2 linked regions of the Homo sapiens genome follow. The protein of the gene in region 1 purifies or fractionates together with the protein of each later gene. This does not show direct contact. Each region holds a gene or a part of one and is shown in the gene's direction. Other genes may lie near its edges.

Evidence for each region.
Region 2: the proteins of OLA1 (region 1) and LEMD3 fractionate together in Homo sapiens (co-fractionation; one large-scale study listed by BioGRID). This does not show direct contact.

What each region holds. Positions count from the first base shown.
Region 1 is NC_000002.12:174,080,821-174,084,650, reverse strand, and holds part of OLA1 (obg-like ATPase 1), read left to right. Parts: intron 1-2,586; coding exon 2,587-2,727; intron 2,728-3,402; coding exon 3,403-3,499; intron 3,500-3,830. UniProt on the Homo sapiens protein: Hydrolyzes ATP, and can also hydrolyze GTP with lower efficiency. Has lower affinity for GTP.
Region 2 is NC_000012.12:65,214,288-65,218,117, forward strand, and holds part of LEMD3 (inner nuclear membrane protein Man1), read left to right. Parts: intron 1-1,689; coding exon 1,690-1,756; intron 1,757-3,830.

The sequences.
Region 1 (3,830 bases):
TGGTCCCCATGGGGTTCAGATTTGTGATCTTGGCCTCATTATCACACTTTTGTAACCATCAGACCTAATAGATACACCACATATATTTCAGTCTATAATCTTGAAATCAAATAATATTTTTAATTACCCTAGGTTTATTTCATAGATGTAATTAAAAATCATTTTGGGACATTTCCCACTTTTGTTTGATAGTAAAAGTCACAAAAGTAAAGCAGACAGCCAAAGAACCTCACTCACTTTTCATCTTCCCTGTGTTTTCTATGACAGTGAAAGTCACAAAAGTGAAGCTGGCAGGCAAAGAGCCTAACTCACTTTACGGGAGAGTGCTACGGTACCTTTTTCTTTTAGTGAGGCTATAGCAGGTCTGATGTCAGTCACTTTAGAGACCTTTAGACCTCAGTGCTCATTTACTGCTAAAATGTACCAGCTCTGCTTCTGCATTATGAAGATCATCTGTCAACACTTTGAGATATTCTCCTTTGTTATTAAGCTTGTGATGCTCTACACTGTCAGGTTTTTTGCCAATTATAGTTAAGGTACAATAGTGTATTCACCAGATCAAAGTCTCACATTGGCGGTAGAGGAATGATTTGTAAGTCTTTATTCATTTGAATTGTACAATAGAACACCTGAGGAATGCAAATAATCCCTCTGAGAACTCTGCAGGAAAGGCTGTTAAAATGACAGGGTAGGACTATTGTTATTCTGAATTGATGTGTTAGCTAAAGTAATTATTTCTTATCTTGTTGTTTCATAACAGTTCTAGTTTTATTAGTTCTGTTGACCATATTTATGAAATAAAGTGTGTATGATATTTTTATATTCTCCTTTTACATGGGCTTGTTTTATTTCACTTTCATTGAATCTATTTGGTATGTGATCTGCTTTTTTAAAATTACATATTTGATTTTAACTTGTATAATGAAAGTAAGTTACTAAACCATTGATGATAACATTTGAATATAGACTTTTGTTTGAATAGTGTAAGTCTGTGAAGTAACTTAGAATACCATAATGTTAACGGAGACAGAAGCACCAATTTCAGTCCCCCCACCTTTTTTTTAACCTGTCCTTCTTAATTTTGGTTAAGAAAACATCTAGTTTGAATTTTATGTTAAAGGCAACATAAATCATAGGACTTGGTCCATTTTTTGGGATATGAACAAAAGAAAAAATACTATTATGAAGATTGAAAACCACAAATAACATACTAAATAAGTAGTTACCTTTGTATAACAAACATATACAAACTCTTGTGTGATTGTTTTTCATTCCTTTCTCCCATCCTAAATCCTGCTCAATGGGCCATAGTCTTAATTTTCTAATAACTCTGCTCCCCTGCCATTGATGGATTTGTGACTTAGTTCTTGTTTTTCTTTTCCCCTAAAGTGGCATTTACATTAATTATTTAAAGGACTTCTGCCACAGCATTTTGCCATAATAACTATTAAAACCTTTGTCTAAATATAGCAGTCTAGTGGAATTATGTAAGCCTATAGCATAATTTTATAAAAATTTTAATGGAATGTATAGTCTCACACTAAACTCAGTTCCAGATTCATAGGAATGTATGCTATGATTATCTGAGAAGGAAAATTAATAATAGTAACTGCTGTTAATTCTTTACTATTTGCAGGCTTTTCTAGGTTCCTTACAATATAATATGTACTATTATTATCTCTATTTTTACAAGTGAGGAAACTGAGGCTTAGAAACGTTCAGTAACCTGCCCAGTAATAAAAAGCTAGGAAAGTGTTAGGCTCTGAACCTAATTAATATATTCACTACACTTATTTCATTTATGTTCTAATTACTACTTTGCCAAATACTCCATGCTTTGGAAGGAAAAAAAATGACTCAATAATGTCTTTTCAGGTAACAACTAGGATCAGTTTCCTAACTGATTTGGCTTTCCAAATCCTTTGTGATTAAAGGAATTTCTTTCCTCTGCAGTTCTATTATTCTTGTTCTCACAAAAGTCAGGTTCATACAGCTGCGTACGTGATCAACCATATTTGTAAATCTGTATTTCTGCACGTGCTTGTTCTGGCTAGGAAAAAGCTTCCTCAAAACTAGTGACCACTGTGAGTTCTGTTAGTCCATGAAGGAACTAAACCAGGCATATAGATATCTGGCTGGAACAAATTATTTATTTGTGAAGGGCTCTTCAGAATTAGCTGGTATTTTTAGGTATGATTCCTGTACAAACAGAACTTTATGTCTTCTTTTAAAAATTTACTTTGTAAAGTAAGGAAAACAAAAAATTATAAAATGGAAGCTTTATTCAAGGGTACAGGTGTTAATGCTGAACAATTTTAGTGTAACTAAAAAAAGTTTTTAAATATTTGTATAATAGTTTCCATAGATAATGTGCTAAAGTAAAACTAGGTTACAGTAAAATACTATGGCGTATACCTGAAGCAGTTGCTGCCTGTTAATGCCTTGACCTTGGAAAGCTATATACAAAAAGATGGCATCATAAAACCGTGCAATTCTTATGAATATGTATGTGCTACTTGATAATAATGAATGTGGTACAGTCATGCATGCACTACAAGATAATGTTGTGCCCTTTTTTGTCTACAGGTTGATAAAAATTAAAGAGTGGGTGGACAAGTATGACCCAGGTGCTTTGGTCATTCCTTTTAGTGGGGCCTTGGAACTCAAGTTGCAAGAATTGAGTGCTGAGGAGAGACAGAAGTATCTGGAAGCGAACATGACACAAAGGTTAATTAGCATTCATTTTCCCTACACTTTATTATCAACTATTTCCTTGCAGTAATTTAATTGCTTGCGCTGATAGAATAATAAATGACAGAGTAATTACCATTATAAAGAGGGAATCTTCTCCTTTCTTTACCATGAGACAGAGTGAAAAGATTTATTTTAAATTAAGTTTTTAACTGTCATCTGTCATCTCCGTACAGTGTTTTAATTATAACATAGGTATTAGTTATGTATATTTTTGAGAAGGAATGATCGCCAAAACTCTTTCGTCATGTTCAGTGGGGGAGGGGAAAGGGTGAATCAGTTGCCATAATTTTTTCTGAGTAACAGTAATATATTGTTTAAATATCAGATTTCAATCAAATAATTTTGCTTTTATGGCCAGGTCCTGGAAATAATTAATTTTGGATGAAAATAGTCATAATTTTTCTTTTTTTAAATAGCAAACAATTCAAAATAATATCTTCAGGCTAATACAATTAAAACCAATTTTAGAAGAGAGGTTTTTAAAAACAGTTACTTGCTTTCTGAACCCTTCCAGTGTATTCTGAAAGATGAATGGTCATTTACTACTATCTTTAACATTTTCTGCTTGAAATGAATAATTTTAGCTCTATACCAATTTCTGGCACAATCAACTTATGTGTTGGGTGAATTTGTTTCATTTGATTTCAGTGCTTTGCCAAAGATCATTAAGGCTGGGTTTGCAGCACTCCAACTAGAATACTTTTTCACTGCAGGCCCAGATGAAGTGCGTGCATGGACCATCAGGGTAAGATTCATACTTATTCATCAGCTATATCCAGTTCCACACTATTGAATTCAGATTGATATCACTGACTTTGAAGTTTGTCATGGTGGCGGTTAGCTAGTCATTACAGATGAGGTTTTTGTCCAGGATAACTTTAATTATTTGTGAGCTGCTGAACAGTGAAAGTGGAGCGGCATTGATTGAGGCAGGTAACAATTGATTCTGCCTATTACATAGTCTGAATTTCTTCATCCTGTAGAATCTGTCTACCCTCCTCCTGTGGTCAGAGATAAGACGCACCAGTATTGTGCTTGCTTAATCTGTGTGACTGGGTTTGTCTGCAGTGAAATTG
Region 2 (3,830 bases), on another chromosome or scaffold:
CCCAGCCTACTGTTACTTTTTGATGTCTAATTTTGCAGTTTGAATTTTTGATCTTATGTGAAGATAAGGACTGGCTTGATTCAGAATCTGATTAAGATAAAATTGAGGCAAAAATATATATATATACGTAGGAAGGCAAGTAGTAAACTGAATGAATAAGTAACTTATCTCAGTCAACCGTCTGACATAAAACCAGGTATTCTGGTGGTAGGATCTTGGCACTTTTGATGAGTTTTCCTCTTAGTATAACCGATTAAAGCTGCAATGACAAAAGCATGCCACCCATAGTGTGCAAACATGTTCTCTTCTGTCCCTGCACATACACCACAAAATAAATGGATGAGGTTGCATGTTATTAGACATATAAATGTTACTTTTCCAGTCTTTTATATCTTGCTTCAATTTGCTCCATGATCTGTTCATCCAGTAAATCTGTTTTGTTGGAAACTTCAGGAAGAAAGAAAGTAATAAAGACAGAGCCCCCTGATAAATCATGGACTTATTTTAGGTAGTGCAATAAGCTATTACCCCCTCCCCACCCTACCCTCCATCATTTATGTCGATCCCTCCTGATCGTAATTGCTCTTAAATTGGAGGTCTTGTTGCTTTAGACTACTTGGCAGGTACTTAGGCTGTACCATTGCAATAATTCTCTATCTGGACTCTTTTCATACAATTATTTCTGCTTCCGAGCCAGCCTATACATTGTACATTCTGGCCCGGGTAGTATTCCTGATGCACAAGTCTGTTTTACTCTCCTGCTAAATTTTCAGAATGAAGTCAAACTCTCTGTCTTGCTATCCAAGGCTGTCTGGTAGTTAATACTAAACAACTTTTCTAGTAGTTTGCAGAATCAAACAAGGGCTACTGGTTATGTAAGAAATATAACCAATGCTTTCATGCCTTCATGCCCTTGCTCAGGGTCTTTCCCATTGCCTAGGATGCTGATCTGTTAGTTTTTCCTTTTAAATCAAACTCAAATATTCTGTTCCATAAATTCTGTTCCCTCCTTCCCTCCTTCTATATTTACAGAAGAAGGAGGGAAGAGAATCTTCTGTATTACTCTGCAGTTGTATAACATTTAATATGTTTTTTGCCCTTGAGTACAGGAACCATCTTGTTCACTGGGTCTCTCGCTTTGCTGAGAGAACAGTTCTTAACTCCTAGTAGATGTTTATTTAATGTTTGTTTCATTTTAACAGTTCATAAGTTTATACAGGGGCACCTTGGGAGCCTAGGAGAGGACTGAGTATCAGTCAACGTGCCAGTACTCATTCCCTTAGTTTTATGTGGTTGAGTTAGATTAAAACAAGACATGAAGGGCAGCCTTGATGAAGAAAACAGTCTCATATGAACAGTTTACATAAGAATACACTGTGCAGAGGGGGATTGGGAACATTGCTTTGGTGATTGATGGAGTTTATTGTCTGTGAGACCTTTTTTTTAGCACTAACCTTATGCCAATTTTTAAATCGTTCTCCAGAAAGTGAAATATTTAGAGTAATAATTTAGAGTCTTAGATTAAGGTTTCTTAAAAATATGGTGCCCATTACTTAAATGTGAATTTGTCTTTCAGATTATGTGGCTTCTGTGATTTTAAATTTACTGTTTTTTTTTTTTTGATTAAGAATTATTTGGTGTTTTTTTTCTTGTAATTGGGTATTTCATAATAACTTCTCTTAATTTTAGGAAAGTGAAAAAACTCTTATGATGAACACATTATATAAGCTTCATGATCGATTGGCACAGCTTGCAGGTAATTGTTTTAACTTTTATAGTTGCTAAAAATGTTTTGAAAAATGTATGTAGCATGTTATTAGTAGAAAATATTTTTCCAAGTCCAGTGTTATATTTGTGAAATATTTTTCTTTAGAAGTTTTCATTACCTATACAGAGTGATTTTTGATTTTTACATATGTATTTAATGAAGGCTTTTTTCCTGCCTGCCATCTGTATTAGAGGTAATATATATATATAATATAGTTATAAAGTTGATCAAATTTCTTTATTGCATCAGTGGTAACAAAAAATCTGGAAAGCTTAAGTATCAGAGGAATTAGGTAAGCAGTGAATTAACTAAAATCTTGGATTAAATATACAAATGCAGATTTTCTTTTGTTGGTTGTATAGGTATCATTCTGTTTGATAAAGTAAATTTATTCTCCTGTAATTTTCTCTCCGGATTAATTGCATTTTCCTCATAGTCTGCTCTTAGTAATTCTTTGAGAGCTCTAAGGTAGTCAACTTGTCCGAAATGGGAATAATTTATTATAGATTAATTAGTATCAAGTTTAGCACATGTAAACTGCAGTAGCAGCTTATCTATTACCTTTTTTTAGTTCTTTTTTTTTTTTAAACATATAATCTGAAAGAAGAGACTTGGATTCTTGTAAGCAGGCATAAGAAAAGAAAAATGCAGTTTTCAAACTTTTCTATGTAGCAGAACTTTTGTGTAAACCAGATTATTGGTAGCAGCCTATAGGTAAATATGGAACTTCTCTGGTTGAATGGAGGTATTTAGGATCCTGACAGTTTCCCATCCTCTGATCTCTCTTTGTTTTGTACATTGGGTTCTTAATTCTGGTCAATTTTTTAAGCTTTTAATTCTGTATTATATCGCTAAAAGCCTTCTTTGCTTTGATTGTCATTCACACACTTCAAGCTAATGACATTTATTTGGTATGCTGTAGCACCCAGAGATAGGTTAAGTATATGCTAGTTATGCTAGCTAGGGATATTGCTAACACAAGCTTCTACAGCTATCTCTGTAGCATTGTTTTATCAAGTATGGTTCATGGCCAGCTAAATCAGCATAATCTGATGTGCTTTTAAAGATACAGATTCCTTCCCCTTGAGTAAGGGTCAACAAGCTTTTTTTCTGTGAAGGGTCAGATAGTGGATATTTTAGGCTTTGTAGGTTAGTTTGCCTCTGTCACAACCACTCAGTTATGTTATACCATGAAAGCAGCCATAAATACTACATAAGTGAATGAGCTTGGCTGTATTCCAGTAAAACTTCATTTATAAAAACCAGAGTAGGCCAGATTTGACCCATGGGCTGTAATTTGCAGACCTCTGCTCTAAATCTATGGGATCTAAATCTCTGAGGATGCACTAATAAACTTTCAAGACTTGTTCATCTGATAGGTACTTCTCCCCTTTTTATAGCTACTGACATTAAAATGATTACTTGAACAAAACTGAAATGAGAACATGGCTGCTTTTATTTTAGAAACATTTGGCAAGGATTTTACTTTAATTATTCTACTTTCATGTTAACAAGCTTTTTAACTACTTGAAAGACACAGGGAAGGGAAAACATGACAATTGGAGTTCAATATGAGGATAATTTATTTCTAATAACCACTTATAGTCTAAAGAAAAAGCCCTGAATTCGCTTCTTATCAACAATTAAAAGAAAAGATAAATGTAGTTTTCCAAAGATTTATATGAGCACATCCCTTTGTAGAAACCAGATCATAGGTGGAAACTTGTACCTGATTTCCCTGTTGGTCTGTTATAACAATTTTTGTTTTTTAAGATTTTTTTGAGACAGGATCTTTTCTGTCACTCAGGCTGGAGTGAAGTAGGGTGATCACAGCTCACTGCAGCTTCAAATTTATGGAGTCAAGCTGTCTTCTCGCCTCTGCTTCCCGAATAATTGGGACAACAGATGCATACTACCACACCTGGTTATGTTATAACAGTTTTTAAGGCATGCACACCCCTTGCTAAAGATAGGATTAGTTATACTCTGAAAATGCACATACTTTAATTCATTAATAAATTCAAACTTATTTGAACCCTTAAATGATTAGCTTTAAGAATAG